Regions from separate parts of the Homo sapiens genome. Here region 1 is linked to region 2. The links come from fine-mapping of genetic effects on gene expression. A gene starts in region 2. The other region holds a variant in brackets. All regions are shown on one strand. Distances are from middle to middle.

Region 1 (16,184 bases), 65 kb before region 2:
CTTGTGATCCGTCCACCTCGGCCTCCCAAAGTGCTGGGATTACAGGCCTGAGCCACCGTGCCTGGCCTCTTTTTTTTTTTTTTTTTAATGCAGAGTCTTGCTCTGTCGCCCAGGCTGGAGTGCAGTGGCATGATCTCAGCCCACTGCAATCTGCACCTCCCAGGTTCAAGGAATTCTCGTGTCTCAGCCTCCCTAGTAGCTGGGATTACTGGCGTGCACCACCACACCCGGCTAATTTTTGCATTTTTAGTAGAGATGGGGTTTCGCCATGTTGGCCAGGCTGCTCTCAAACTCCTGGCCACAAGTGCTCTGCCCGACTCGTCCTCTGCCCAACTCGTCCTCCCAAAGTGCTGGGATTACGGGCTTGAGCCGCAATGCCTGGCCTATCCTTTCTTTATGTCCAAGACTTTAAGGGTCATCCAATGTTCTGTTTACATTGATCTCACCTTTGCGCCAGGACTATTGTCTTTTAACTGTGCCTGCAGGCGTGGCTCACACCTGTAATCTCAGCAGTTTAGGAGGCTGAGGCAAGAGCATCGCCTGAGCCCCGGAGTTTGAAACCAGCGTAGGCGACAAAGCGAGACCTCGTCTCTAAATAAATAAAGTTATCAAATAAAAAAGCCGGGCGCTGTGGCTCACGCCTGTAATCCCAGTACTTTGGGAGGCAGAGGAGGGCGGATCACCTGAGGTCAGGGGTTTGAAACCAGCCTGACCAACATGGTGAAACCTCGTCTCTTCTAAAAATACAAAAAAAAAAAAAAAAAATCAGCTGGGCATGGTGGCGTGTGCCTGTAGTCCCAGCTACTCGGGGAGGCTGAGGCAGGAAAATCGTTTGAACCCAGGAGGCAGAGGTTGCAGTGAGCCGAGTTCATGCCACTGCACTCCAGCCTGGGTGACAGAGGGAAACTCTATCTCAAAAAAAAAAAAAAAACAAACACTGTGCCTGCTAGAAGGGTAAAGGCCACCAGAACAATAGCTCCTCATTGGGTACGGGGTGTTCTCTCCAGGCTCCCTAAGGAATGTGAATATAACCTGAATATGGCTCCATTTATTCAGATGTTTATTAAAGTCTTGAGCAAGCAGGCATCAAACAATTCATGTGAACAGTAAGCTCAATGAGGTCCCAACTCTTTGACCTTTGAGATGCTCTGACCACCGTTGTGATGAAATGTAGAGCTCTCAAGGTGGACTCACCACTATTACAGAGGCAGGATTCTGTTGGCCTTATAGCCGATATCAGGAAACTGCAACCCTCAGAGTTTATAGCTGGACACAGGACGGTTTAGAGGTTTAGCCTAGAGTATTATCCTGAAGGAAACAAGCTTCGGACTTGCTAGATTCTTTTTTTTTTTCTTATTAATTGTCTGTATGACAAAGATTTTTTTTTTAAGAAAGATTCTTATACTCTTTTAACGCAAAAGTGAGTAGAGTCTCACATATTTTAAACAATGCATATATCTTGAATATCCCTGATTTCACTAATGTGAGCCCATTCTAATGCTGTTATTTTTATTTTTATTATTTATTTTTGGTGACAGGGTCTCACTCTGTCACCCAGGCTGGATTTCAGTGGTGCCATCACGGCTCACTGCAGCCGCCACCTGCTGGGCTCAGGTGTTCCTCCTGCCTCAGCCTCCCAAGTAGCTGGGACCACAGGTGTGTACCACTACACCTGGCTAATTAAATATATATATATATATATATATATATATATATATATATATATTTGTAGAAATGGTAGGAGGGTGTCTCCCTATGTTGCCCAGGCTGGTCTCAAACTCGTAGGCTCAAGAGATCCTCCCGCTTTGGCCTTGTAAAGTGTTGGGATTACAGGTGTGAGCCACCATGCCCAGCCTCTAATGCCTGTTATACTAGCTAAAGCTAATAAGCTACTAATTTCACCTACGAAAACCCATTTCTGGCCAGGCACGGTGGCTCACACCTGTAACCCCACCACTTTGGAAGACTAAGGTGGGTGTATCGCTTGACTCCAGGAGTTCAAGACCAACCTGGGCAATATGGCAAAACCCCATCTCTGCAAAAAATACCAAAAAATTAGCTGGGTGTGGTGGTGCACACCTGTAGTCCCAGTTATTTGGGAGGCTGAGGCAGGAGGATCACCTGAGCCTGGGAGGTGGAGGTTGCAGGGAGCCAAGATTGTGCCACTGCACTCCAGCCTGGGCAACAAGAGCGAGACCCTGTCTAAAAAAAGAAAAAAGAAAACTCGTTTCTTTCTTCTTTTTTTTAGACAGAGTTTCGCTCTTGTTGCCCAGGCTGGAGTGCAATGGCGCGATCTCGGCTCACTGCAATCTCAGCCTTCTGGGTTCAAGCCATTCTCTTGCCTCAGCCTCCCAAGTAGCTGGAATCACAGGCATGTGCCACCACGCCCAGCTAATTTTGTATTTTTAGTAAAGACGAGGTTTCTCCACCTTGGTCAGGCTGGTCTCGAACTCCTGACCTCAGGTGATCCGCCCGCCTCAACTTCCAAAGTGCTGGGATTACAGGCATGAGCCACTGCGCCTGGCAAGAAAACCCATTTCTAACCTTCATTTTGCTACTTAAGAAAGCCTCTGTTATTGGTTGAGCTATGGCTAACAGAAGCATCTGTAGTGGCTAGAATAGGAAATATGGACTCCTGACCACCCCTGGTGTATAAAGTCCTAAGTGGGGTCATTTCCAGCTCTAAACACAACACACTCCTCCTCCACCTCTTCCTTCTCTATCTTTGCTGACAGTAAATTACAGGCCTCATCATACCCTATAATATGATCACAGATATTAACATAGCTAAAGAAGCAATGTGGGGCTGGGCACGGTAGCTCATGCCTGTAATCCTAGCACTTTGGGAGGCCGAGGCGGGTGGATCACCTGAGGTCGGGAGTTCGAGACCAGCCCGACCAACATGGAGAAACTCTGTCTCTACTAAAAATACAAAATTAGCTGGGCGTGGTGGCTACTAATCCCAGCTACTTGGGACGCTGAGGCAAAAGAATTGCTTGAACCCCGGAGGCGGAGGCTGCAGTGAGCCGAGATCGGGCCACTGCACTCCACCCTGGGTGACAGAGCAAAACTCCGTCTCGGGAAAAAAAAAAAAAAAGAAGCAATGTGGCTATGAGAAGAGAGGAAACCTAGAAACTTAGGGAGAGAGTAAGGAAGGCCAGGCTGCCAAAGCCCATCTAAGCAATTTTTGGAAGACAAAGAATCTTGGTCAAAAAGAGGACTTCAAAAATGATCATCCTATTTGTAAGGCTATCCTTTACGTGGGGATGGAGGCTCCAGTTATCCTAACACCTTTGATCAATGGGAATTGATTTGATTTCTTACCTAACCACCTTCCCATTGTAATTGTGCTTCCTACAATTGGAAGCAGGTCTGTGGTCTGACCACAGGGAGAGAATGTAGATGTGTACCTTTTAACTCCATGAGACACTTACATTTGCTCATTGTTAACAAAGGGACATTTTGACTTTATTATTATTTTATTTACTTATTTATTTATTTTTTGAGACAGAGTTTCACTCTCGTTGCCCAGGCTACAGTGCAATGGCACAATCTCGGCTCGCTCCAATCTCCGTCTCCCGGGTTCAAGCGATTCTCCTGTCTCAGCCTCCCAAGTAGCTGGAATTACAGGCACCCACCACCACACCTAGCCAATTTTTGTATTTTTAGTAGAGATGGGGTTTCACCATGTTGGGCAGGCTGGTCTCGAATTCATAACATTAGGTAATCCATCCACCTCAGCCTCCCAAAGTGCTGATTTACAGGCATGAGCCACCACACCTGGCCATTATTATTTTTGAGACGGGGTCTCACTCTGTTGACCAGGCTGGAGTACAGTGACACGACCTTGGCTCACTGCAACCTCCACCTCCCAGGCTCAAGCGATCCTCTCATCTCAGCTTCCCAAGTAGCTGGGACTACAGGAGTGCACCACCATGCCTGGCTAATTTTTTGTATTTTTGGTAGAGATGGGGTTTCACCATGTTGCCTAGGCTGGTCTCAAACTCCTGAGCTCAAGCAATCCACCCACCTCGGCCTCCCAAAGTGCTGTGATTACAGGCATATTCGACTTTATATAGCAGCTCTGGTTAATGTGTACCTATTCCCTGACAGAGAGTGTACTCTGGGTGATCCCTCCAGGAAGCCCCACTGGTCCCAGGATATCTTAGTTGCCTGTGTTATGTACCCCTAGCATACTGTACTTCCCATACCAGGCCAGTCCCCACTCTTCAAGGCAGTGGTTTGTCTAATTGACTCTTTCCCCCAGCCAGATGGTAAACAAAGTGAGGGCAAGGACTGTGCCCATAAGACTCCTATATTCCCAGTGCCCAGCAGAATGCCAGGCACAGTCTGCACACGGTGGTTCACGCCTGTAATCCCAGCAATTTGGGAGGCCGAGGCAGACAGATCGCTTGAGGTAAGGAGTTCAAGACCAGCCTGGCCAGCATGTTGACACCCGCCTCTATCAAAAATACAAAAATTAGCCAGGCATAGTGGTGGGCGCCTGTAATCCCAGCTACTACGGAGGCTGAAGCAAGAGAATTGCTTGAACCCTGAAGGTGGAGGTTGCAGTGAGCCGAGATCGCACCACTGCACTCCAGCCTGGGCGACAGAGCAAGACTCCACCAAAAAAAAAACAAAACAAAAAAACCCAGGCACAGAGAAAGCTCTCCACACATACTTATTGAGAAAAAGATCCCCTGAATAGGTAACTGCATTAAGAAATCTGTTTTCTGAATCTGTTCAGATGAGGACCAAACCTTCAATTCCCCAAGGTGATATCCTATCCCTTCTTGTGACATCTTGGAGAGTTTTCTGACAGCAGTGTCCCTCTGCAACACTGTGTAGACCCTCCAGCAGCCAAGGGACCAAGGTCATTCCAGGATAAACTTGGTGGCAATAGAAAGTTTTCATTCATCAGTTAAACAGGAGCACTGTATTAGTCACCAGGCATACCTTGATTTAGAATAAGGGGTACCCAGGCCAACACTGAACACTCACATGTACAACAAACAATAAAGTAATTTATAAAATGGAGGTATTGCAGGGTAACCTCTTGAGGGTTATTTTCTACTGGTGGTGGGGAGGTTTAAGGATGGTTTAAGGTGACATCTGAGCTGTGTCTAAAGGGTCAACAGAAGTTAAATTAGCCACACTAGTCTGACTTGTCCACCTCAGAGTACTTTCACAGAAAGAAAAGCTCCTACTAACTTTTAAATCAGCCAAGAGTATTGTTTCATCAAAAGAGTTGAATTTCATGTTTGTTGCATACTATTGGGGTTGTAGGTAGTGAAAAAGAGTGTTTGCCTCTTCATAGAACAAAAAGCTTATTGTTTAATATGATTACACAATACCATCTTTCTGAGCTAACCCTGATTTTAGTCCTTGTAGGAATTTGGCCAGTTTCTGCATTTGCTATAGATGTCCACATTTCTGGCAGACACTGAAAGATTTAGAAAATGATTATACTTTATACACAGATCACTCAGGCATACTGATGGCAGGCTATGGAGTGTACTATTAGATTGGCACACACCAGGGTGCCAGCTCTAGCAGAAAGAGGATTTTTAAAATAAAAACTCTTCTCATGTATGGACTATTGGGAGAGAGTATGTGCGTTTCAAAAATTCGAATACGTATATTGCATATTTCAGAGTATTGGGATTCATTCATTTTGTTTTGATATACTTCCCCAAGTCTCGCCTATAATTATAGACTTCAAGGACATGGAAACAATGTTCATGTATAGAGACAATGGAAAAGAAAAATACAAACTACAAATAGGTTTAGGCTTTATTGAAAATCTCGGGGCCAGGAGTGGTAGCACATGTCTGTAATCCCAGCACTTTGGGAGTTCGAGGCAGGGGGATTGCTTGAGGCCAGGAGTTCAAGACCAGCCTGGGCAACATAGGGAGACCCCATCTCTACAAAAAATAAAAAATTAGCCTTAGCCAAGTGTGGTGGTGCACACCTGTAGTCACAGCTACTTGGGAGGCTGAGGCAGGAGGATCGTTTGAGCCTAGGAGGTTGAGGCTGCAGTGAGCTGTGATCATGCCAGTGCATTCCAGCCTGGGTGACAGAGTGAGACCCTGTCTCAAAACAAAACAATTTTTTTTTTTGAGACAGAGTCTCGCTCTGTCACCTAGGCTAGAATGCAAAGTGAGACCCTGTCTCAAAACAATTAAAACAATTTTTTGTTTTGACAAACTGAGACCCTGTCTCAAAACAATTAAAACAATTTTTTTTTTTGAGGCGGAGTCTTGCTCTGTCACCCAGGCTAGAGTGCAGTTGGCACGCTCTCGGCTCAATGCAACCTCCGCCTCCCGGGTTCAAGTGATTCTCCTGCCTCAGCCTCCTGAGTAGCTGGGATTACAGGTGCAAGCCACCACGCCCAGCTAATTTTTGTATTTTGTGATCCCAAAGTGCTGGGATCACAGGTGTGAGCCACTGCGCCCAGCCGAACAATTTTTTCAAGTTTTTTTTTTTGTTTCATTTTGTTTTAAGAAACAGAATCTCTTTCTCTGTGTTACCCTGGCTGGAGTATAGTGGTTTTCATCCTAGCCCACTACAGCGTCAAATTGGGCGACAGAGTAAGACCTTGTCTCAAAAAAAAAAAAAAAAAAAGAGAGAAAAGAAAAGGGCTGGGCTCGGTGGTTCACGCCTGTAATCCCAGCACTTTGGGAGGCCAAGGCAGGTGGATCACCTGAGGTCAGTAGTTCGAGACCAGCCTGGCCAACATGGTGAAATCTCATCTCTACTAAAAAGAAAACACAAAAATTAGGCCAGGCACGGTGGTTCATGCCTGTAATCCCAGCACTTTGGGAGGCCAAGGTGGGCAGATCACTTGAGGTTGGGAGTTCACGACCAGGCTGACCAACATGGAGAAACCCCGTTTCTACTAAAAAATACAAAATTAGCCAGTCGTGGTGGCGCATGCCTGTAATCCCAGCTACTTGGGCCGCTGAGGCAGGAGAATTGCTTGAACCCGGGAGGCGGAGATTGCGGTCAGCTGAGATCGCACCATTGCACTCCAACCTGGGCAATAAGAGTGAAACTCCATCTTAAAAAAAAAAAAAATTAACTGGATGTAGGGGCGCGTGCCTGTAATCCCAGCTACTTGGGAGGCTGAGGCAGGGGAATTGCTTGAACCTGGGAGGTGGAGGTTGCAGTGAACTGAGATCGCACCACCGACAGAGCAAGAATCCGTCTCAAGAAAAAGAAAAAAGAGAAGAGAAGAGAAGAAAAGAGAAGAGAAAAGAAAGGGGAACCATCCTGGCCAACCTGGTGAAACCCCGTCTCTACTAAAAATACAAAAAATTAGCCAGGCATAGTGGTGGAAGCCTGTAATCTCAGCTACTCGGGAGGCTGAGGCAGTAGAATCCCTTGAACCCAGGAGGCAGAGGTTGCAGTGAGCTGAGATTGTGCCACTGCACTCTATCCTGGGCGACAGAGTGAGACTCAAAAAAAAAAAAAAAAAAGAAAAAAGAAAGAAAAAAGAAAAAGAAAGAAATCAGCATCCAGTTTAAACCACTGTAATTCTGGATTTTTCTGTCACTTGCCATCAAGCTGATTCTGAAATCACAGAAAGATATATATAGATTTGCTTCTAGGGAAGAGGGTCTATGCTTTTTCACTCACAGTCACACACACACACACACACACACACACACACACACACACAGATGCTCACTTCCTCCCATCATCACATCATCCTCTCTAAATGGTTGTTTTCATTTTGTTAATTTAATATCTTAATTTTTTTTACATTATTTTCATGTAGATATTATTCACAACCTAGTTGTATAGTATCCTATTAATAATTTCTTTTTTATGTTTCTTTTTTCTTTTTTTAAAATTGAGATAGGGTCTTGCTCTGTTGCCCAGGCTGGTCTCAAACTCCTGGACTCAAGTGATCCTCCCACCTCAGTGGGAGCCACGGTGCCCTGCTCCATGTTTCTTATCTTTTCTCTTCTATTTTCCTATATCCTGTTTTGCTACAGACAGTTCCAGGGTTACAATTTTTGATGTTG[C/T]GATGGTGCCAAAGTTGTATGAATTTGACTTTGAGTACCCATACAACCATTCTGTTTTTCACTTTCAGTACAAGTATTCAATAAAGCACATGAGATATTCAACACTTTATTATAAAACAGCTTTGTGTTTGATGATTTTGACCAACTGTAGGCTAATATAAGTATTATGAGCTTGGCCAGGAGTAGTGGCTTACGCCTGTAATCCCAGTACTTTGGGAGGCCGAGGTGGGCAGATCACCTGAGGTCAGGAGTTCGAGACACACCTGGCTAACATGGTGAAACCCCATCTCTACTAAAATACAAAAATTAGCCGGGCGTGGTGGCTGGCGCCTGTAATCCCAGCTACTTGGGAGGCTGAGGCACGCGAATCACTTGAACCTGGGAGGCAGAGGTTGCAGTGAGCCGAGATCGTCTCACTGCACTCCAGCCCGGGCAATAGAGCAAGACTCCGTCTCAAAAAAACAAAGTATTATGAGCTTACATTAAGGTAGGCTAGGCTAAGTTATGATGTTTGGTAGGTTAAGTGTATTTTTTTTTTTTCCGAGATGGAGTCTTGCTCTGTCTTGCCCAAGCTGGAGTGCAGTGTCACCATCTTGGCTCACTGTGGCCTCCACCTCCCAGGTTCAAGCAATTCTTCTATCTCAGCCTCCCGAGTAGCTGAGACTACAGGCATGTGCCACTACACCTGGCTAATTTTGTATTTTTAGTAGAGAAGGGGTTTCACCATGTTGGCCAGGCTGGTCTCGAACTCCTGACCTCAGGTGATCCACCCGCCTTGGCCTCTCAAAGTGCTGGGGTTACAGGCATGAGCCACCACGCCCGGCCAGGTTAAGTGTATTAAATGCATTTTCCACTTATGATATTTTCAACTTCTGATGGGTTTATTGGAACATAACGCCATCATAAGTCAGGAAACATCTGTACTTTGTAGATGATCTCAACTTTGTCTTCTAATACTACTAATGAAGTTTTGATCAATGTCATATTTTATTTACTTTTTATTTAATTATTAATTTGTGAGACAAGTCTTGCTCTGTCACCAAGGCTGGAGTGCAGTGGTGTGATCATAGCTCACTGCAGCCTCTACCTCCAGGGCTCAAGTTGAGGCAGGAAAATAGGATCTGGAGGTAGGGAATATAAGGCCGATTCACACTTCAGCTATGACAGGAAATAGCCTCTCCATAGGGCGTAGGCCAAGTAAATGATTGTAACTTTACTTTATCCTCTTCATTTACATAGGGCATACCTCAAGTAGAGGTTATTTTTAAACTCCCAAAAATTCTGAAACAGGGCCTTTGAGCTATGCTTGGGCCTGCTCAAACCCTGTGGAGTGTACTTTCATTTTCAATAAATCCCTTCATTCCTTCCTTGCTTTGTGCGTTTTGTCTAATTCTTTGCTCAAGACGCCAAGAACCTGGACACTCTTCCCGGGTAGCAAAGTGATCCTCCCACCTCAGCCTCCCAAATAGCTGGGACTAGAGGCATGCACCACCATGCCTGGCTAATTTTTATTTATTTATTTCATTTTATTGGTAGAGACTTGGTGTTACTATGTTGCCCAGGCTGGTCTTGAACTCCTGGGCTCAAAGGATCCTCCCTCCTTGGCCTTCCAAAGTGCTGGGATTGGTGTGAGCCACTGCCCCCAGTCTGCAGGACAATTCTTTTTTTTTTTTTTTTTGAGACAGAGTTTCACTCTTGTTGCTCAGGCTGGAGTGCAATGGCCCCATCTTGGCTCACTGCAACCTCTGCCTCCTGGGGTCAAGCAATTCTCCTGCCTCAGCCTCCCAAGTAGTTGGGATTACAGGCATGCACCACCACCACGCTTGGCTAATTTTGTATTCTTAGTAGAGACGGGGTTTCACCATGTTGTTCAGGCTGGTCTTGAACTCCTGACATCAGGTGATCCTCCTGCCTTGGCATCCCAAAGTGCTGGGATTACAGGCGTGAGCCACCACGCCAGGCTGACAATTCTTGAAGAGTAAATAGCTTTTCCCATCAAAAGGAATCAAGATTCCTTGAAGAAATGCCTGCTTCCAGGTCTGAGGAAAGGAAATGTAAATTATTACCGATTTTTCTTATTTTTCCTACTATGTTAAGCACAGAAATTCCCAAAAACATAACCACAAATAGTTAAAAAAATATATAAAAAAAAGATGGCCAAGTGCGGGTGGCTCACGTCTGTACTCCCAGCACTTTGGGAGGCCAAGGCGGGCGGATCACCTGAGGTCGGGAGTTCGAGACCAGCCTGACCAACATGGAGAAACCCCGTCTCTACTAAAAATACAAAATTGGCCCGGTGTGGTGGCACATGCCTGTAATCTCAGCTACTTGGGAGGCTGAGGCAGGAGAATCGCTTGAACCCGGGAGGCGGAGGTTGCGGAGAGCCGAGATCACGCCATTGCACTCCAACCTGGGCAACAAGAGCGAAACTCCGTCTCAAAAAAAAAAAAAAAAAAAGATATAGCCGCCATTTTGGTGTAAGCCTCCCGAGTCTTTTCTATGCATATGAGGCAGGAGAATAGGGTCCGGAGGCAGGGAACCTAAGGCCGATTCAAGCTGGCTTTCTAGAACTAAGTCAATGGCCGGGCGCGGTGGCTCACGCCTGTAATCCCAGCACTTTGGGAGGCCGAGGCAGGCAGATCACCTGAGGTCGGGAGTTTGAGACCAGCCTGACCAATATGGAGAAACCCTGTCTCTACTAAAAATACAAAATTAGCCGGGCATGGTGGCGCATACCTGTAATCCCAGCTACTCAGGAGGCTGAGGCAGGAGAAGCGCTTGAACCCGGGAGGCGGAGGTTGCGGTGAGCCGAGATCGTGCCATTGCACTCCAGCCTGGGCAATAAGAGTGAAGTCCGTCTCAAAAAAAAAAAAAAAAAAAACTAAGTCAAAAGGAACATCCCAACTTTCCACAGGTAAATAACAAAAGGATTGTAAACTACTCCCTTTGCAAATCCACCCCACCCCCACCCCACCTTTCTGTGCGGCAGATGGAAAATTGAAAGCATTTCTGATTGGTTGCCTTCTTTTCTTTCTTTCTTTTTTTTTTTTTTTTTTTTTTAGGGGGGTGGGGAAGTTGTCTACCTCTGTGGCCCAGGCTGGAGTGCAGTGGCACGATCTTGGCTCACTGCAATCTCTGCCTCCCAGGTTCAGGCGATTTTTGTGCCTCAGCCTCTCAAGTAGCTGGAATTACAGGCACGTGCCACCACGCCCAGCTAAATTTTTTATTTTTAGTAGAGATAATTCCTCATGTTGGCCAGACTGGTCTCAAACTCCTGACCTCAGGTGATCCACCCGCCTTGGCCTCCCAAAGTGCCGGGGTTCCAGGCGTGAACCACCACGCCCAGCCTGATTGGTTGCTTTCTGTAGCCAATCAGACGTTTGCATAGGAGTGAGTGTAACTTTGTAACTACACTTCATCCTCTGATTGGTTGCTTTCCACAACCAAACAGACTGATTGCAGGCCGCTATTTCATTTACATAGGGTGTACACCATGTAACCAATGGGAAACCCCTAGAGGGTATTTAAATTCCAGAAAATTCTGGGGCTCTTGAGCCCCTGTACTAGGCCTGCTCCAGCCTTGTGGAATGTACTTTTGTTTTCAGTAAATCTCTGCTTTTGTTGCTTCATTCTTTCCTTGCTTTGTGCGTTTTGTCCAATTCTTTGTTCAAAACGCCAAGAACGTGGACACCCTCCACCGGTAACACAAAAGCATGCCCAACACACACATACACGGGCATTTTTGGAAGAAAAAGTGTAATCGTATTAAATATTTTTGTAAATTGCCTTTTATATTTCATTTAACATTATATTGTGAACCTTCTCTTATGTCAAATGTAGCGCTTGGACGTCATTTTTGAAAGCATTCAAGAAATCCTTTATCCAAAAGAAATCACAGTCAGGGCATCGGTGAACAAAACAAATTGGTTGAGTTTCCCGGGTGGACTCTGGACTGGGCCTTTTCCCTACCTTGCAGGCTGCAGCCATGCTTGGGAGCTACGGCATTAATCTATAGGGCAATGACTCAGCTTCATTTGCATAACCATGGTGCACTGCATGCAATATATTTACAAGTTAAAAGCCGTAGGTGTCCTTTAAACCTGCTGTTTTGAAGAATGATACTTTTCCTTACACATTCGCCTGAAAGAAGTGCTGTATGTATTTGAGCTGGGCTTAATTTCACCCTCAGTGTACCAGAGGTGGCTGTTACCTGGCAACTGCCTTTCCAAGCTTGCTGTTGTTTTTTCTTGTTTTTAGATTAATAGAGTTAGTCGTTTTTTTTTTTTTTTTAATTCTGTTACTATTTTATGAGACAGGATCTTGTTCTGCTACCTACACTGCATTGTAGTGGTACAAATATGGCTCGCTGTAGCCTCGGCCTCCTGGGCTTAGACCACCCTCTTGCCACAATGGTAAATGCCCAGCTAGTTTTTTATTTTTACATTTTAATTATTTGTTTTTTTTTATTTGTTTTTTTTTGAGACAGCGTCTCACTTTGTTGGTCAGGCTGGTCTCAAATTCCTCGGCTCAAGTGATCCTCCCACAGCGGGGATACAAGCATGAGCCACTGTGCCTGGCTTTCCCTTTTATTAAAGATTTAAGCAAAAATAAAACTAAGTAGAGTTTGTTGGGGGTTTTTTGTTTGTTTTTTGAGACAGTCTTTGTTGGGTTTTTGTTTGTTTGTTTGTTTTTTAAGACAGTTGCCCAGTCGCCCAGGCTGGAGTACAGTGGTGCAATCACAGCTCACTGCAACCTTGACCTCCCAGGCTCAAGTGATCCTCCCATCTCAGCCTCCCGAGTAGCTAGGACTACAAGTGCATGCCACCATACCTGGTGAATTTTTTGTATTTTTATTAGAGATGGGGTCTCACTATGTTGCTCAGGCTGGTATAGAACTCCTGGGCTCAAGGGATCTGCTAGCCTTGGCCTCCCAAGGTGCTGGGATTATAGGCATGAGCCACCAGGCCCAGTGAGTAGAGTTTTAACTGGGTGTTTTATTGAGGTGTGTAATGTTGGGACCTGTCTTCTCCTTGTTTTATGTAGCTGTAGTTTCTTGATTTCTCTTATGCTATGTAATATCTGACTTTTATGGTAGCTGTTTCTTTTAGTTCTACTACATATGTAGTATAGTTGTACCTGTATTTGGAGTTTACGTAGGTCTTCTCTCCAATCTTGCATTTTCTGTTTAACATTACATTTATGAGATTCATAGATTCACTCACAGCACTGTGCACAGCTGTTATTTTTTCGTGTTCTTGGCTCTTTGCTATGGTTATCACACTGTCATTATAATTCCATTCTACTGTTGATGCACATTTGGGTTGGGTGCAGCCTGAGGTCACTAGAACATCACTTTTATTGACAGTCGTGCATGTGCCACCTACTAGCACATGCCATATGATGTTTTTATCTTCCACTTTACTAAGTAATGGTAGTTATTTTCATAAGTGGTTAATACCATTTGGTATTCCCTAGGAGAGGAACTGCTTGCTGGGCAAAGAGAAGTACATATTCAACTTTTCATTGAAGTAATGCCAGTTTTGGCTTACTTCCAAAGAGATTGTGCCAGTGCATAGTTGCGCCAATAGCACGTCGATGTTCCTGTTGTTTCACATGCTTACTAACTCTTGATATTTTCAGACTTCTACTTTTTTTTTTTTTTTTTTTTTGAGATAGGGTCTACTCTGTCACCCAGGTTGGAGTGCAGTGGCACGATCTCGGCTTACTGCAACCTTTGCCTCCCAGGTTCAAGTGGTTCTCCCACCACAGTCTCCCAAGCAGCTGGGACTACAGGCGCGCACCACCATGCCCAGCTAATTTTTGTATTTTCGTAGAGATGGGGTTTCATCATGTTGCCCAGGCTGGTCTTCAACTCCTGAGCTCAGGCAATCTGCCCACCTCAGCCTCCCAAAGTCTTAGGATTACAGGCGTGAGCCACTGCACCCAGCCTTCAGACTTCTACATTTTTGACCATCTGGTGGGTATAAAATATATCACTTAAAATATTTGCACACAATTCCATCATGTGGATGAACCACCATTTGTTCAAATCAAGATTCTGGTGTATGACATATAGGTACCTGCCAATTTTTCTATTGTATACTCAAAGTCTTGCTTGTCTAATTGCTTCCTTAGCATAAATTCCAAGAGTAGAAATGTCGGGTTAAATGTTCCTCACATTTAACATTTTGATGCTTGTTACCCGACTGCCATTTGGAAAGATTTAACAATTTTACACTCCCATCTACAGTATTTTTATGCTTTTTCCCCATACCCGTGTCAAAATTAGGTATTAAAAGAAATCTACAAAAATTAGCTGGGCATGGTGGCAGGTGCCTGTAATCCCAGCTACTCGAGAGGCTGAGGCAGGAGAATAGCTTGAACCCTGGAGGCGGAGGTTGCAGTGAGCCGAGATCGCACCACTGCACTCCAGCCTGGGCGACAGAGCAAGACTCCGTTTCAAAAAAAAAAAAAAAAAAAAGATGCATGTCCTTAATTTTAGAAGTCAAATTACACAAGGCTTTTAAAACAACAGAGACCCTTGACCAGTGCTTCTCTCTTTGTAACTACCCAATGGGTTCATTTTGCCCACTGCCCAGATGGAGCCGATTTATCAAAACAAGGGAATTGCAATAGAGTTTAATACACACAGAGCTGGCTGAACAGGAGACCGGAGTTTTATTATTACTGTGAATAGAAAATATCTTGGGCCCCCAAAATCACTAAGCTAAAGGGAAAATTCAAGCTGGGAACTGCTCAGGGCAAACTTGCCTCCCATTCTATTCAAAGCCATCCCTCTGCTCACTGAGATAAATGCATATCTGATTGCCTCCTTTGGAAAAGCTAATCAGAAACTCAATGCAACGGTTTGTCTCTCATCTACCTGTGACCTGAAAGCCCTCTCCCCTTTCGAGTTGTGCGCTTTTGCTTCCAGTTGTCCCGCCTTTCCGGACCACACCAATGTTCATCTTACATATGTTGATTGGTGTCTCATGTCTCCCTAAAATGTATGAAACCAAGCTGTGCTCTGACCACGTTGGGCACATGTTGTCAGGACCTCATGAGGCTGTGTCACAGGCACACATCCTCGACCTTGGCAAAATAAAGTTTCTAAATTAACTGAGGCCTGTCTCAGATTTTTGGGTTTCACATTCCTGAAATCAGTCTCCCTGAAGATTTGGAAACTGAGGTTTTTAAAGGATAATTTGGTGGGTATGGGGCTAAGGAGTGGGGAGTGCTGATTGGTCGGGTCAGAGATGAAATCCTAGGAGGTCAGTCGAAGCTGTGCTCTAGCAATGAGTCGGTTCCTGGGTGGGGGCCACAACACCAGATGAGCCAGTTTATTGATCTGGGTGGCACCAGCTAATCCATGGACTGAAAAATATCTTCAGCACCTAATCTTAGGTTTTATGGTAGTGGGTAGTGATGTTATCCCTAGGAGCAATTGAGGAGGTTTAGAATCTTGTGGCCTCTAGCTGCAAGACTCCAGAACCATAATTTCTTTATTTTTTTATTTTTTATTTTTATTTATTTATTTATTTTGAGACAGAGTTTCGCTCTTGTTGCCCAGGCTGGAGTGCAGTGGCACGACCTTGGCTCGCTGCAACCTCTGCCTCCCAGGTTCAAGCGATTCTCCTGCCTCAGCCTCCTGAGTAGTTGGGATTACAGACACCTGCCACCATGTCTGGCTAATTTTTGTATTTTTAGTAGAGACAGGGTTTCACCAAGTTGGCTGGGCTGGTCTTGAATTCCTGACCTCAGGTGATCTGCCTGCCTCAGCCTCCCAAAGTGCTGGGATTACAGGCATGAGCCACCGTGCCCGGGCTATTTTTCTTTTATTATTATTATTATTATTTTTACTTTCTTTTTCTTTTTTTTTTTGGACGGAGTCTCGCTCTGTCGCCCATGCTGGAGTGCAGTGGCGCGATCTTGGCTCACTGCAACCTCCGCCTCCTGGGTTCATGCCATTCTCCTGCCTCAGCCTCCCGAGTAGCTGGGATTATAGGCACCCGCCACCACGCCCGGCTAATTTTTTTTTTTTTGCATATTTAGTAGAGATGGGGTTTCACCGTGTAAGCCAGGATGGTCTCTATCTCCTGACCTCATGATCTGCCTGCCTCAGCCTCCCAAAGTGCTGGGATTACAGGCGTGAGC
Region 2 (16,184 bases):
TTAATATGATTTACCATCTTAACCGTTTCTAAGTGTACAATTCAGTACTGTTAAGTACATTTACATTGTTGAGCAATCAATCTTCAGAACTCTTCATCTTGCAATTAAAAGAATGAAAAATAGTCCGAGTGCGGTGGCTCACGCCTGTAATCCCAGCACTTTGGAAGGCCGAGGCGGGAGGATCACAAGGTCAGGAGTTCGAGACCATCCTGGCTAACACGGTGAAACCCCGTCTCTACTGAAAATAGAAAAAAATTAGCCGGGCGTGGTGGCGGGCGCCTGTAGTCCCAGCTACTAGGGAGGCTGAGGCAGGAGAATGGCGTGAACTCGGGAGGCAGAGGTTGCAGAGTCCATTCTCAAAAAAAAAAAAAAAAGAAAAAAGAAAAATAGAACTTCATCTTGCAAAACTGAAACTACCTATGAAACAACTCCCCATTCCTGTCCTTGTCATCCCCCTCCTCCCCCCATTCTACTTCTTGTCTCTATGGATCTGACTAGATACCTTAATATAAGTGGAATCATTCAGTATTTGTCTGTAACTGGCTTCTTTCACTTAGTATAATGTCCTCAAGGCTGTGTCAATTTCTTTTTAAGAGTGAATAGTATTCCCTTGTATGTATACACCACGTTTTGTTTATCCATCTGTTTATCCACCGCACATATTGAGATTTTACCAAAGAAATGATACCATATCTGGGCCAGGCGCAGTGGCTCACGCCTGTAATCCCAGCGCTTTGGGAGACCGAGATGGGTGGATCACCTGAGGTTAGGAGTTTGAGACTAGCCTGACCAACATGGTGAAACCCCGTTTGTACTAAAAATACAAAAAATTAGCTGGGTGTGCTGGCGGGCGCCTGTAATCCCAGCTACTCGAGAGGCCGAGGCAGGAGAATCACTTGAACTCAGGAGGCGGAGGTTGCAGTGAGCTGAGATCCTGCCATTGCCCTCCAGCCTGGATGACAAGAGCAAAACTCCGTCTCAAAAAAAAAAAAAAGAAAAAGAAAAAAAGAAATGATGCCACGTCTGGAATTTGCTTCAAATTAATACAGGATGGGGGTGGGGGGAATGGGGGGGGATATAGATGAAACAAGCCTGGCCATGGGTTGAAGCTGGGTAGTTAAACATTTGTCTTTTTTATATTTTTAACTTTTCCCACAATAACATGTAAAACTAACAAAAAACTAGTGATGTGCATAACTACCCCTTCAGAGCAGGGAGTTCATGGACACATTTCCCAAGCACAGTCTTCAGTCATTAATTGTGGAAGGACATCCATGATTCCTTGCTCCCCAACTATTTTGAGAAGAGGAGGACAGTTCCGGTGACCTGAGGGAATACATGAGGAATTGATTACAACTCTGATTTCCCTGCTGTCCAGTTTTCCAGCCTGACTTATATTTATATTTTATTCAGGTCCAGGATTTTAGGTTATCAAGCCCAACCTGTTTTTTTCTTTCCCCCAAACAGCTGAGATTTAAACAATTCACCTGTTTAAAGTGTACAATTCAATGGTATATATTTTTGGTGTATTACACTATTAATATTTTAAATTGAAGTAAAAATAAATTTTTTTTAGTGTACAGTTCAGTGGCATTGATGACATTCCAGCCTGTTTTTAGAGTCCAAGTATTGATTCAGCTTTGAAGTCAGGAGATGTCTTAGGATCAATGCCTTTCTAGGCTTTATTAAGTCAATGAGAACCTGAAAGTGGTTGAGACTTTCGGGAATAGGATATTTGCTTCAAGTATGATTGAACAGAGCCTGGAATTTGAGTGAGAAGCCTAGGATGGGCTTCTAATTCCACCATCTAGTAGGTGAATAAACTTGACTTTTTTTTTTTTTTTAGACGGAGTCTCACTCTGTCTTGCCCAGGCTGAAGTGCAGTGGCACAATCTCGACTCACTGTATCCTCTGCCTCCTGGGTTCAAGCAATTCTCCTGCCTCAGCCTCCCAAATAGCTGGAATTACAGGCACCTGCCACCACACCTGGCTAATTTTGTATTTTTAGTAGAGACGGGGTTTCACCATGTTGGCCAGGCTGGTCTCGAACTCCTGATCTCAGGTGATCCACCCACCTTGGCCTCCCAAAGTGCTGGGATTACAGGAGTGAGCCACCGCACCCGGCCTAAACTTGACGTTTTACTCATCCTTTTGCCCCTCAAGTTCCCTCACTTGCAAAAGAAGTATAGTGCTGGTCCTTCCCACAGCAGAGATAGGGCCCAGCCCTTTCAGCCTTACTCTGCTTTATCTTAAGGTACACTCAAAATCGTGGTGAACACTGTGGTCACCAAGGGATAGACAGTTTTACAACTCTTCTGAAAGGTAGAATTCTTAAAAATAAGAGATTAGGCTGGGCACAGTGGCTCATGCCTGTAATCCCAGCACTTTGTGAGGCCGAGGTGGGAGGATTGCTTGAGTCTAGAAGTTTGAGACCAGCCTGGGCAACATAACGAGACCCTGTCTATACAAAAAATAAAAAATGAGCTGGGTGTAGTGGCTTGCACCTGTCGTCTCAGCTACTCAGGAGGCTGAGGCAGGGGGATTGCTTGAGCCTGGGAGCTGGAGGCTGCAGTGAGCTGTGATCGTGCCACTGCACTCCAGCCTGGGTGATAGAGCGAGACCCCGACTGAAAAAAAGAAAAAAAAAAAAGATTACAAAACAAGAACATAAGCAATCAACTTAATGATGGGCTTCATTTTCATTTTAAAAAAATCATCTGGCCAGGCACGGTGGCTCATGCCTGTAATCCCAGAACTTTGAGAGGCCGAGGCAGGTGGATCACCTGAGGTCAGGAGTTCGAGACCAGCCTGGCCAACATGGTAAAACCCTGTCTCTACTAAAAATACAAAAATTAGTCGGGCGTGGTGGTGGGCGCCTGTAATCCCAGCTACTCAGGAGGCTGAGGCAGGAGAATCACTTGAACCCGGGAGGTGGAGGTTGCAGTGAGCTGGGATCATGCCATTGCACTCCAGCCTGGGCGACAAGAATGAATCCCCACCTCAAAAAAAAAAAAAAAAAATCATCTTGTGCGGATTCAGCAAGATGTTATGCTGGTGGTGGGCCATGAACTGACACTTGTTGAATGAGGATACATCCTTATCCCACACAATTCAGTCAATCCACACCCTGTTATCAAATTTGTTTTCCAGCTCATTATTTTTCCCATTTGAGATTAATAATACAATAGTTATTATAATGAGCCCTTTGTATATACAGATTATCTTTTATCCATTAGCCTCATGGATGAATAGAATAGGACAATTGGATCAGGCCTCACATCCTGTGGTGGAGTCTGGCTGTGCATTGATGTCCTGGCTTTGCCACTCATATTAACTAACGTACCCTTGGTCAAGACATTTCACATCTCTGAACCTCAGGTCCCTCATTCTAAAAAGGGGATCATAACAACTGTCCTGGTTCTAAAAAGATAATGAAAGACGGAACTGTGGAAGGAAACCTTACATATGCGGCAGGTATTAAGTATTAGCACCCATACCAACCCATTTCACAAACATTCTTTCCCCTGAGCCCTCTGGAAGACTTGTTTATGCCTCTAGCCTTTTGACAAGGTGGTTCCTTGTCCCTCCCCTGGACCCCCCAACACCCATGGAGACCTGGATCTCCCCCAAGGCTACCCTGCTGAGTGAAGCGTCTGCTTATTTTCCCAGAAATTGACATCATTGTTCCAAGTTCCTTACTGCTTCCTCCACAACACTGTTCTTTCATCCTTGGTGGGGAGAAACTCCATTGTGTTTATTTTATTTTATTTTTTGAGATGGAGTTTCGCTCTTGTCGCCCAGGCTGGAGTGCAATGGCGCGATCTGGGCTCACTGCAACCTCCACCTCCCGGGTTCAAGAGATTCTCCTGCTTCAGCCTCCTGAGTAGCTGGGACTACAGGCACCCGCCACCGCGGCCGGCTAATTTTTTGTATTTTTAGCAGAGACGGGGTTTCACCGTGTTAACCAGGATGGTCTCGATCTCCTGATCTCGTGATCCACCCACCTCGGCCTCCCAAAGTGCTGGGATTACAGGGGTGAGCCACCATGCCTGGTCGTGTTTATTTTTTTAAATTAATTAATTGATTTTTTTTTTGAGACAAGGTCTCAGTCTGTCGTCCAGGCTGGAGTGCAGTGGCACGGTCATAGCTCATTGCAGCCTTGACCTCCTGGGCTCAGGCGACCTTCCTGCTTCAGCCTCCCCTGGGATGCATGCCAGCACACGTGATAATTTTTGTATTTTTTGTAGAGACAGGATTTTGCCATGTTGTCCAGGTAAGTCACCAACTCCTGGACTCAAACTATCTGCCTGCCTCAGCCTCTCAAAGTGCTGGGATTACAGGGGTGTGCCATGGCGCCAGGCCTCCATTGTGTCTTGAAAGGCACTGACATTTGTTCTGCAACCTTCTCCCTTTCCTTGTCACAGTCATCTATTAGTTTCAGGCTCACTACCCACCCCGCAACCCCAATTCTCTAAAGTTCCTTGACCTCGATTGACTCCTCCACCTCCTGCCATCCTTTTGGGACCCTCGATGTCCAACATACCAGCCTTGTGGGCACTAAACCCAAGGCCAGTGATGCCCATCTCACTTTTCTATTCCATTGTAGCTGCCACACCCCAAACTGTCTCATTTCCTGGAATATCCATTTGAAGGCCTGAACTCCAGCACCACACTCTCTGCTGCCAGTTTGCCAGTCCTCTCCTCAGAGGCCCTGGCCTTGGAGCCCTTCTCTCATCTGTCTCCCAGTCCATCAGCTCCCCGCTGGTTTTATTAACAGTTCCTGTCCTCTAGGACTAGAGCTCTGGCCCATCACTGCAATCGCAGTCTTTCTGTGCCCTCCACCTCCTCACCCTCTTGTCCTTCTATTCTATGCAAGCAGGAAACTTGGGTTTCATAACTAAGAGCTATATTTCTGTAGATACCTTGCCAGATTATAGCAGATTATAGCTGGACACCACTACACGATGATGGTTTCTAAACTCCACTAGGTCTTCAGTGACTCTTGTCTAACTTGTCGCTCTAGCATCTCACACTGGTTATGCGAAATTTCCACCACTTTCCTAAAACCTTCCATCTCACTTCAGACCCTTCTGTTGTCCATGTTAGCTTCCTTCAGTGGTTGGCTTCTTGCCTTCACCCGAAAAACCTCCTGTATCCGTTCCCAGCACCAATCATCCTCCAATACTCTTTTTTTTTTTTTTTTTTGAGACAAAGTCTCCTCTGTCACCCAGGCTGGAGTGCAGTGGCCTGATCTCGGCTCACTGCAACCTCTGCCTCCCAGGTTCAAGCGATTCTCTCTGCCTCAGCCTTCGGAGTAGGTGGGATTACAGGCAGGTGCCACCACACCTGGCTAATTTTGCATTTTTAGTAGAGACAGGGTTACACCACGTTGGCCAGGCTGGTCTCGAACTCCCGACCTCAGGTGATCCGCCTGCCTTGGCCTCCCAAAGTGCTGGGATTACAGGCGTGAGTCACCCGAAGAGTGACTTTTTAGAGTATTTGGGCGGGGTGCAGTGGCTCAAGCCTGTAATCCCAGCATTTTGGGAGGCAAGGCAGGAGGATCAGCTGAGGTCGGGAGTTCGAGACCAGCCTGGCCAACGTGATGTAACCCCGTTTCTGTTAAAAATGCAAAATTAGCCGAGCTTTTTGGCATCCGCCTGTAATCCCAGCTACTCCGGGGGCTGAGGCAGGGACAATCGCTTGAACCCGGGAGGCGGAGGTTGCAGTGAGCCCAGATCGCGCCATTGCACTCCAGCCTGGGCAAAAAGGGCGAACGAAACTCCGTCTCAAAAAAAAAAAAAAAAAAAAAGTCACTCTTGGAAGCCTTAATTGCCTTCCTCCCCTCACTGCACCCCCGCAACTCTTTGCTGCAGAAGTATTGTTCTAGGGAACCTTACTGGTTCCAACAGACGGGTGGACCTCCCACCAGACTGTGAGCTAGCTCCTCAAAGGCAGGCATTCTCTTTCCTTTTCCTTCTCTCCTGAGCGCTCCTGCAGTTCCTGGGGCGTAGTAGGGGATCCACAAGCGTTTGTGACCAGTGAAGTTCTTTACAAGGGTGAGATCTGCACGGGAGGACCCGAGCGAGGGTCTCGGCTTGCCAGGAAGCCGGGGTTCCCCGGGAAGCGTGGAGTTCACCCGCGCACTCGAAGTGCCTTTGCAAAGTGAGCCACGGGAGGGAGGAGCGGTCCCCGGGCTGGGCGAGGCCTGGGGCCCAGTGCGTCCAGAGCGGAGGGTGACGGGAGCTGCCTGTGCTGGAGGAATCACTTTTTAGGCGCTTGTTTTGGACCATTGCACAAACCCGGGTGCAAACCCCAAGCTCACCAGCGTGAGTGAGCTGGGCCAGCAGCAGGGAGGAGAGGGGAAGGTGGGCGAGGAGGGCGCCGCGCACCCCGAGGCCCGTGTGGGCGGTGGGAAGATCCCGGGGGCGGCTTTGGACAGCCCCGGCAGCGACCCCTTCCCCAGCCCGACAGGTGAGCGCCAGGCCAGCCGCGGGGTGGAGCCCGCCGTGCCCACCGGCCACCCTCCCCGGTGCTACCACCACCGCGCAGGTAACTTCCCTTCTGGGCCTGTCCCAGACCCCCAGGGCCTCGGCGCCCGGGCCATCCCTCGTCCCCAGGGCCTCTCCGCCCTGCACCCCCAGCCCCGGTGCACTTGTGGGGCCGGGCTCCTTTGTCCGCTCTCTGATGGCGCCGGCTCCCTGCCCAGCGCTGAGTCGGGTCCGGCCGCCAGCCCCGCGCTCGCAGACCTCGGCTGCCGGGTGTGGCGCGGGGACTGGGGAACGCTGGCCCGTGCCCAGTGCGGTTGGAGCCTGTCCCGCGCGTCCCCGGGACGCGCTTCTTCCCGCCTCCGCCCGCGCCAGCGCCCGCACCCGGATCCCCACTTCTCCCGGCCCTCGGGAGCCAGGAGAGCCCTGAGATGGCGTTGGCGGAAGTGAAGCCCCGAGCGGGGGTCTGCGAGGCTGGTGATCAGCGCCGGTAACATGGCCTTTCTGTCCTCTCCCCGGTCCCAGTGCACCCCTTAAACAACGACCCCCGCGTTTTCCCCGTACTAGATGGTTAGGGCGCATAGTGCCGAACTACGCTGCTGCTACAGAATAGCTTTTTTGGGGGCAACATAAAAAAGAATTGTATGTATGGTTTATATACAACAAAATGTCCCATTTTCAGTGTGCAAATCGACGGGATTTGACAAATTATACACTCCTGTAACCATTATCCCAAAGTGAACATTGACCATTTCCTTCACCCTGCAAAGTTCCCTGGTACCTCCTTTCTGTCAATCCACCCCAGGCCCCGCACTCAACCCCGGTTCTGATTGTTATCATAGCTTAGCTTTGACTGTTCTAGAACTTCATAGAACAAGATCATCAGGTAAGTACTCTTTTGTGTCTAACATTACTTTTTAAATGGCCATCACTGAGAAGGTGTCTCTGGGTGCTTCCGGTGCTTTTATTTGCTCTAGGCCTGCCTGGTCTAATGTGGGAGCCACTGGTCACATGTGGTTATTGAATACTGGAAATGTGGCAAAATCCGTACTGAGATGTGCTCTGAGTACAGGCACCTGATTTCTGAAAGCTTAGTACACAAAAAAGATGTCAAATATCTCACTAATACATTCTTACATTGTGCGTTAAAAGTGATAACATTTTTGGCTACATTGGGTTAAATAACATATATTAACATGAACTTCATTTGATTCTTTTTACTTTTTTAATATGGCTACTAGAAACTTAAAATTACGTACCTGGCTGTGTAATATTTTTTATTAGGTAGTGGAGACAGCACAGCTCTACACTGTGCTATCCTATAAACACTTGGTTCTGCTCACTGCATGTAAGAGTAAATGAAAAACTTGTCTTGACACCAGAAACAATCCTCAATGGAGGAAGTGATCTAAAACAGGGCCAGCCTTTCCCTGAACCTTTGAAACTTTGTTAAACTTACTTGTGTGCTTAAAAGAAGTAGAGGGCCGGGCATGGTGGCTCATGCCTGTAATCCCAGCACTTTGGGAGGCCGAGGTGGGCGGATCACGAGGTCAAGAGATCAAGACCATCCTGGACAACATGGTGAAACCCTGTCTCTACTAAAGATACAAAAATTAGCTGGGAATGGTGGCATGCACCTGTAGTCCCAGCTACTTGGGAGGCTGAGGCAGGAGAATTGCTTGAACCCGGGAGGCGGAGGTTGCAGTGAGCCCAGATCGTGTCATTGCACTCCAGCCTGGTGACAGAGCGCGACTCCAACTCAAAACAACAACAACAACAACAAAGTAGGAAGAATTAGGTGTCCCCTTGGTATTAAGTTGCATTTTTACAAAAGGTCTCTAAAATATCCAAGGTGCTTTAAAAAGGTATCTTGTGTTTTTGAAAAAACAGAAAATGAGCAATTGCTTATGTAGGGGAGGAAAGAGCTGATATCATAAGGGTCACGGCTGACAGCCTTAAACAAGAGACAGATTAACAAGAGAGAAGCATAATAATTTATTGAATCATAGGTTTATGTGACATGGGAGCCTTCAGAAATGAAAACCCCTTAAAGATGCAAGGGAAATGATCTGATTTTATGCTTGGAGTCCATGAAGCAGGGACAGATGAGCTAATGGAAATAGACTGAGTGGGGAAACCCAGCAAAGCCTGTCCACATTCTTCTTGGCCTCTCTGTTGTAGCGTTTCTTCCTCCCCAGTATGGGGTAGGACCTCTTTGGAATGAGGGTCTTAATTTCTTTATGGCCAGCTGTTGTATAGAAAGGTGGTTGAGAGGAAGGTTAGAGTCATATTTTTTGGCTTTATGGCTGGCTTTGGGGGGAAAAGGGTTCTAGTTTCTATGACTTGCCTTGGGGGAGTATGAGGGGTGAGAGACAGGAGGGCAGGAGAAGGTCAGAGAGAAACTTTGCTTCTGAGGCCTTCATTTTTGGGTTTTGTTTTCTGAGCCCCAACACATACAACCTAATCACCTAAATATATTAAGACATAACATGGTGTATCTTTGACCAAATTAAGATAGAAATCTGTTTTTTTTTTTTTTTTTTTTTTTTTGGAGACAGAGTCTCACTCTGTCACCAGGGTAGAGTGCAATGGCACGATCTTGGCTCATTGCAACCTTCACCTCCTGGGTTCAAGTGATTCTCCTGCCTCAGCCTCCCGAGTACCTGAGACTACAGGTGGGTGCCACCACGCCTGGCTAATTTTTGTATTTTTAGTAGAGACAAGGTTTAACCATGTTGGCCAGGATGGTCTTGATTTCTTGACCTTGTGATCCGCCCGCCTTGGCCTCCCAAAGTGTTGGGATTACAGGCGTGAGCCATTGCACCCGGCCATAAGATGGAAATCTTAGTGGTGACAAATAAAATTTAGATCTTAGTTTAAAAAAACATAGTCAATAATATATTCAATTTTATAGTCTGCTCTCTTTTTCAGGTAACATAAGCATTTTCTTTCTTCCTTTTTTTTTTTTTTTGAGACACGGTTTTACTTTGTTGCCCAGGTTGGAGGGCACTGGCACAATCTTGGCTCACTGCAACCTCCACCTCCCAGGTTCAAGCAATTCTCGTGCCTCAGCCTCCTGAGTAGCCGGGATTACAGGTGCACGCCACCACACCTGGCTGATTTTTTGTATTTTAGTAGAGATGGGGTTTCCCCATGTTGCCCAGGCTGGTCTCGAACTCCTGAGCTCAGGCAATCCGCCCGTCTTGGCCTCCCAAAGTGCTGGGATTACAGGCGTGAGCCACCGTGCCCGGCCACATAAGCATTTTCTTTTTTTTTAACTTTTTTTTTTGAGACGAAGTCTCGCTCTTGTCCCCCAGGCTGGAGTGCAATGGTGCTATCTGGGTTCACTACAACCTCTGCCTCCCGGGTTCAAGCGATTCTCCTGCCTCAGCCTCCCAAGTAGCTGGGATTACAGGCGCCTGCCACCACGCCTGGCTAATTTTTGTATTTTTAGTAGAGACAGGGTTTCACCATGTTGGCCAGGCTGGTCTCGAACTCCTGACCTCAGGTGATCCGCCTGCCTCAGCCTCCCAAAGAAGCATTTTCTTATACAAAAATTTATTAGGCATAATGTGACTTGTACGAATGTATGCCAGTTTTCTTCACCATACCTCTACGGCATTTTTCCATTTCGGTAACTTTTACAAAGAGAGTCATTTGAACAGTATAACAGTGCCAGAATAAGGTATAATTAAAGCACAGTTTATTTGCCCCTTAATCCTGCAGGAAAGGTGAAGTCCAGTGGAACATAGACCTTGTCTTTTTGTTTATCTCCATATTCCTAGGACTTGGAAATATGTCAAGCATGTAATAGATGTTCAAATAAACATTATATATGTAATATATGTATATATATAATTTATTTATTTATTTATTTCAGACGGAGTCTCACTCTGTTGTCCAGACTGGAGTGCAATGGTGTGATCTTGGCTCTGGGTTTGGATTGACAATGTTTTAAGCTATAAACATAGGTCAGATAGGTGGGTGCCCTGGTGACTAGTGAAGATGTGCGATGGCATTGAATGTGATCAACTGTGTTGTGTAGAGAAAGGTAGGCCCAGGGACTTAGGGAGGCCATCTGGGATGGAACATGTATATTTTGAATAGCTTCAGTTTACTCAGCCTGACCATGGTCAGCTAGTTCAAATGGAATTCACAGCTCTGACGTGTGATAACTTTAGTTAAGATAGTTTGTTTTGAAAGGTAAGCAGAGGAAACCACAAAATCAGAATGGGCATTCCTTTGAGGAGGACAAATAAGAAGTGGGTAACTGAAATTGTTCCTACCCGAATGCATTTGTGCTGAATTTCCAAGTATGTAAAAAAATTGTGAAATTACAAATGAAAGTGAAATTTATAGTTATTACCTTTTGTTAGTTACTGTCTCTCTCTCTCTCTCTTTTTATTTTTTCTTTTTTGGTACCGAGTCTCACCCTATTGTCCAGGCTGGAATGCAGTGGTGTGATCTCAGCTCACTGCAACCTCCGCCTCCCGGCTTCAAGTGATTCTCCTGCCTCAGCCTCCCATGCAGCTCATGTAGCTGGGACCACAGGCACACGCCACCACGCCCGGCTACTTTTTATATTTTTAGTAGAGACATTGTTTCGCCACGCTGACCAGGATGGTCTTGAACTCCTGACCTCAGGTGATCCGCCCGCCTTGGCCTCCCAAAGTGCTGAGATTACAGGCATGAGCCACCGCACCTGGTCTCTCTTTTTATTTTTGAGACAGGATCTTGCTTTGTCACCCAGGCTGGAGTGCAGTGGCACAATCACTTGGCTAACTGCAGCCTTGACCTCCTGGGCTCAAGCAATCCTCCTGCCTCAGCCTCCCCAGTAGCTGGGACTACAGGTGTGTGCCACCACACCTGGCTAATGTTTTATTTTTCTTTTGTAGAGAGGGAGTCTCACTATGTTGACCAGGTTGGTGTCGAACTTCTGACCTCAAGAGATCCTCCCACCTCAGCCTTCCAAAGTGTTGGGATTACAGATGTGAGCCACCATGCCTGGCATTATTTTTCTTTTTCTGTAACTGTAATTTTATATTGTGGTCTTACTCAGTTGCCCATTTGCCTGCCATGAGTACACAAATAATACTGTTTATGGTCTACTTTCACATACATGGTGAAATTACAAGAGCAGAAGGCCCCTGTACACACTCAAGGGAAAAACAATAGTACTCAAAGTAAAGAAAATCAAGTTATTGGGCTTCCTATAAAACAAAAGGGTTTGAATCAGAAAGCAGCAGAAAAGTCAAATAAATTTTCCTTATGACTGTCAACTTAAAAATCACAAGATCTATAAATTTAGAAAGGAGACTTTCTTTTTTAAAACATTTTCTTTTCTTTTTTTTTTTTTGAGACAGAGTCTCACTCTGTTGCCCAGGCTGGAGTGCAGTGGCGTGATCTCAGCTCACTGCAACCTCCGCCTCCCAGGTTCAAGTGATTCTCCTGCCTCAGCCTCCCGAGTAGCTGGGATTACAGGCGCATACTACCATGCTCGGCTAATTTTTGTTTGTTTGTTTGTTTGTTTTTTTTTTGAGACAGAGTTTCGCTCTTGTCACCCAGACTGGAGTGCAATGGTGCGATCTCAGCTCACTGCAACCTCCTCCACCCAGGTTCAAGCAATTATCCTGCCTGAGCCTCCTGAGTACCTGGGATTACAAGTGCCCACAACCACGCCCGGCTAATTTTTGTATTTTTAGTAGAGATGGGATTTCACCATGTTCGCCAGGCTGGTCTTAAACTGCTGACCTCAGGTGATCCACCCGCCTTGGCCTCCCAAAGTGCTGGGATTACAGGTGTGAGCCACTATGCCCAGCCTAACTTTTGTATTTTTTAGTAGAGACAGGGTTTCATCATGTTGGCCAGGCTGGTCTCAAACTCCTGACCTCAGGTGTTCCGCCTGCCTCAGCCTTCCAAAGTGCTGGGATTACAGGCATGAGCCATTGCACCTGGCCAAAATTTTTCTTACCTTTCGAGTCGGAGTCTCACTCTGTTGCCCAGACCGGAGTGCAGTGGCACGATCTGGGCTCACTGCAACCTCTGCCTCCCAGGTTCAAGTGATTCTCGTGCTTCAGCCCCGCAAGTAGCTGGGATTACAGGTGCCTGCCACCACACCTGGCTAATTTTTTATTTTTAGTAGAGACAGGGTTTCACCATGTTGGCCAGGCTGGTCTCGAACTCCTGATCTTAAGTGATCTGCCTGCATTGGCTGCCCAAAGTGCTGGGATTATAGGCGTGAGCCACTGTGCCTGGTGACTTTATTTCTTTTCTTTTCTTTCTTTCTTTTTTTTTTTTTGAGGCAGAGTCTTGCTCTGTCACCCAGGCTGGAGTGCAGTGGCACAATCTCGGCTCACTGCAACTTCCGCCTCCTGGGTTCAAGCCATTCTCCTGCCTCAGCCTCCCTAGTAGCCAGGATTACAGGTGTGCACCACCACACCCAGCTAATTTTTGTATTTTTAGTAGAGACAGGGTTTCACCATGTTGGTGAGGCTGGTCTCTAACTCCTGACCTCGTGATCCACCTGCCTCGGCCTCCCAAAGTGCTGGGATTACAGGGGTGAGCCACCACGCCTGGTTTACTTTATTTCTTTGCAGGCTGTAACAGCCTGCAAAGGGGCCATCCCACAGGCTGGGAAGCACACGTTTTAAAGAGACAGGGTCTCGCTATGTTGCCCAGGCTGTTCTCAAACTTCTGGCCTCAAGTGACCCTCCTACCTTGGCCTCCCAAAACCAGAGGCAGGCACTCTGAAGGAGGGTTCAGTTTTATGCTGAATGGGTTGGCTAAATATACATATTCAACAGGTTACAGGAGGAGCTATGAATATTCATGAAGGTGGTCCTGACTCATGTGTATTGAATAAACATGAAAATAGCATATGACCCCTGTTCACTTTGGGGATGGAGACTTAACATTTAAATGAATTTCAGTTAAGCCCTATGCATCAAAAGATCTTTCCAGGACATGAAGGCACGCAAGTCCACAGCCTCTGTAAACTGGCCAGAGCCAGTCCATGGTTGGTGGTCTTATCAGGAGAAAGTTACTCAAATCAGTCTCTTGTCCAATAAAAGCTGTAGTTTTGACTGGTGTAACAGGACTCAGTCAGTCAGCATCTGTGAGCTAGATGAGTTGTAATTATTTTAATATTGCTTATTTAAAAACAGTTTTTATTTTTTATTTTTTTGAGACAGAGTCTCGCTCTGTTGCCCAGGCTGGAGTGCAGTGAGCCACTGCACCTGGCAAGACTTTTTTTTTTAGAGTAATTTTAGGCTCACAGCAAAACTCAGTGGAAAGTACAGAGTTCCCATACACCCTCTCCCCCACTGCTATGCCCAGCCTCCCTGACTATTAACATCCTGCACCTGCAGAGTGGTACATTTGTTATAATCAGTGAACCTACATTGACGCATCATTTTTGCCTAAAGATCATAGGTTTTTGTTTTGTTTTTTTGAGACGGAGTTTCGCTCTCATTGCCCAGGCTGGAGTGCAATGGCCTGATCTCGGCTCACTGCAACCTCTGCCTCCCAGGTTCAAGCGATTCTCTCTTCCTCAGCCTTCGGAGTAGCTGAGATTACAGGCATGCACCACCACACCTGGCTAATTTTGTATTTTTAGTAGAGACGGGGTTTCTCCATGTTGGTCAGGCTGGTCTTGACCTCCCGACCTCAGGTGATCTGCCCGCCTCAGCCTCCCAAAGTGCTGGGATTACAGGTGTGAGCCACCGTGCCCGGCGGAAAGTCTGTAGTTTATTTACATCAGGGTTCGCTCTTCCTGTTGTCCATTCTGTGGGTTTGGATAAATGTGTAATGACATGTATCCATCATTACAGTATTATACAGAATAGTTTCACTGCCCTAAAATTCCTTTGTATTGTGACTATTCATCCCTCTCTCCCTCCTACCCGCTGACAACCACTGATCTTTTTACTATCTCTCTAGTTTTGCTTTTTCTAAAATGTCATATAGTTGAAGTCATACAGTATGTATGTTTTTCAGATTGGCTTCTTTCACTTGGTAATATGCACTTGAGATTCCTCCATGTTTTTTCATGGCTTGGTAGCCCATTTTTTTTTAACACCAAATTATATTCCTAGAGATTGTTGTATATTTTCCACTTTACAGATGAAGGAATAGGCACAGAAAGGATAAATAACTTGCCCAAGGCCGGGCGTGGTAGCTCACGCCTGTGATCCCAGCACTTGGGGAGGCCGAGGTGGGTGGTCACTTGAGACCAGGAGTTCGAGACCAGCCTGGCCAACATGGTGAAATCCCATCTCTACTAAAAATACAAAACTTAGCCCAGCATGGTGGTGCATGCCCGTAATCCCAGCTACTTGGGAGGCTGAGGCATGAGAATCATTTGGACCGGGGAGGTGGAGGTTGCAATGAGCCGAGATTGTGTCACTATACTCCAGCCTGGGCAACAGAGTGAGACCCTGTCTAAAAAAAAAGAAAAAAAAAAAAAAAAGAACTTGCCCAGGTACAGTTTGTACAGATCAGTCTGACACTGGAGTCTGAGCTCTTAAACATTTTAGCATGCCTGTGAATCCTAGAGAAATTTGGTTTATCATGATGAAGTTTGTTGCATGATAGAGTTGAGGTCTTTGGAAACCCAGGGCAACAGACCTAGGCACTTTGCTTGCAGAAGGTATCTACAGCTTTCTGTATAGTGACAACAATAAAAAGCCTAGAAGATAAGACTTTGTTTCAAAAAATTCAAGTATTTAGTTTGGACAGAAAACTGCTGTGTGCTTTTGAAATTTTGGTGAGACGAAGCATGGTGGCTCACTTTTGTAATCAGCATCTTGGGAGGCCAAGGCAAGAGGATTGCTTGAGCCCAGGAGTTTGAGACCAGCCAGGGCATCATAGTAAGAACCTGTCTTTACAAAAATGTTTTAAGAATTAGCTGGGAGACGTGGCACGTGCCTGTAGTCCCAGCCACTCTGGAGCCTGAGGCAAGAGGATTGCTTGAGCCCAGAAGTTCAAGGTTGCAGTGAGCTATGAACATGCCACTGCACTCCAGCCTGGGTGACATAGGGAGACACTGTCTCTTAAAAAAAAAAAAAAATTCTGAGCTAGGTGCGGTGGCTCATGCCTGTTATCCCAGCACTTTGGGAGGCTGAGGCAGGTGGATTGCTTGAGCTCAGGAGTTGGAGACCAGCGTGGGCAACATGGTGAAACTCCGTCTCTACAAAAAACCCACAAAAATTAGCAGGGCGTGGTGGTGCTCACCTATAGTCCCAGTTACTAGGATGCTGAGGTGGGAGGATCGCTTGAACCCAGCGAGCAGAGGTTACAGTGAGCCATGATTGCACCACTCACTGCATTCCAGCCTGGGTGACAGTAAGACTATGTCTAAAAAAAAAAAAAAAAAAAATTAATTCTGGTTGAATACACTGTCTGCTTTACTAGTTTTAAATATTTCTCTTTCCTTATCCATAATTTTATTGCCTTTCAGATTATATCTGGGTGTTGGCACCCAGCCACTATTCTGCCAATGAAGTACATCCTGGTCACGGGTGGGGTCATCTCAGGCATTGGTAAAGGGATCATTGCCAGCAGCATTGGAACGATTCTAAAATCATGTGGACTCCGAGTTACTGCCATAAAAATCGACCCCTATATTAACATCGATGCTGGCACTTTTTCACCTTATGAACACGGTACGAAAGTGAACCACTTCCCCCTTATAGCACTAGGC

Direction of the effects. Positions count from the first base shown, and alleles are read on the strand shown. Sizes are in standard deviations (SD) of each study's normalised expression.
For the expression in cerebellum of the gene that starts at base 6,214 in region 2, T is the high allele of the variant in region 1 and C is the other (moderate effect, 0.65 SD a copy in GTEx).

The links. PIP is the estimated chance that this variant, and not a neighbour inherited with it, causes the effect.
Region 1: its variant is fine-mapped to the expression of CTPS2 in cerebellum (GTEx, PIP 0.97).

The regions. Positions count from the first base shown.
Region 1 is chrX:16,767,932-16,784,115 of GRCh38, reverse strand. No RefSeq gene overlaps it. Among named protein-coding and RNA genes, the nearest start is that of TXLNG, 10 kb to the left of the region's middle. RefSeq lists enhancers at 11,587-12,112, 12,113-12,638. The variant C/T (reference allele first, on the strand shown) is at 8,031.
Region 2 is chrX:16,702,699-16,718,882 of GRCh38, reverse strand. It overlaps CTPS2 (CTP synthase 2), which reads left to right and starts at 6,214. Exons shown (of 19, transcript NM_175859.3): 1 at 6,214-6,548; 2 at 15,942-16,146. The coding sequence starts at 15,981. RefSeq lists silencers at 6,342-6,431, 6,492-6,761.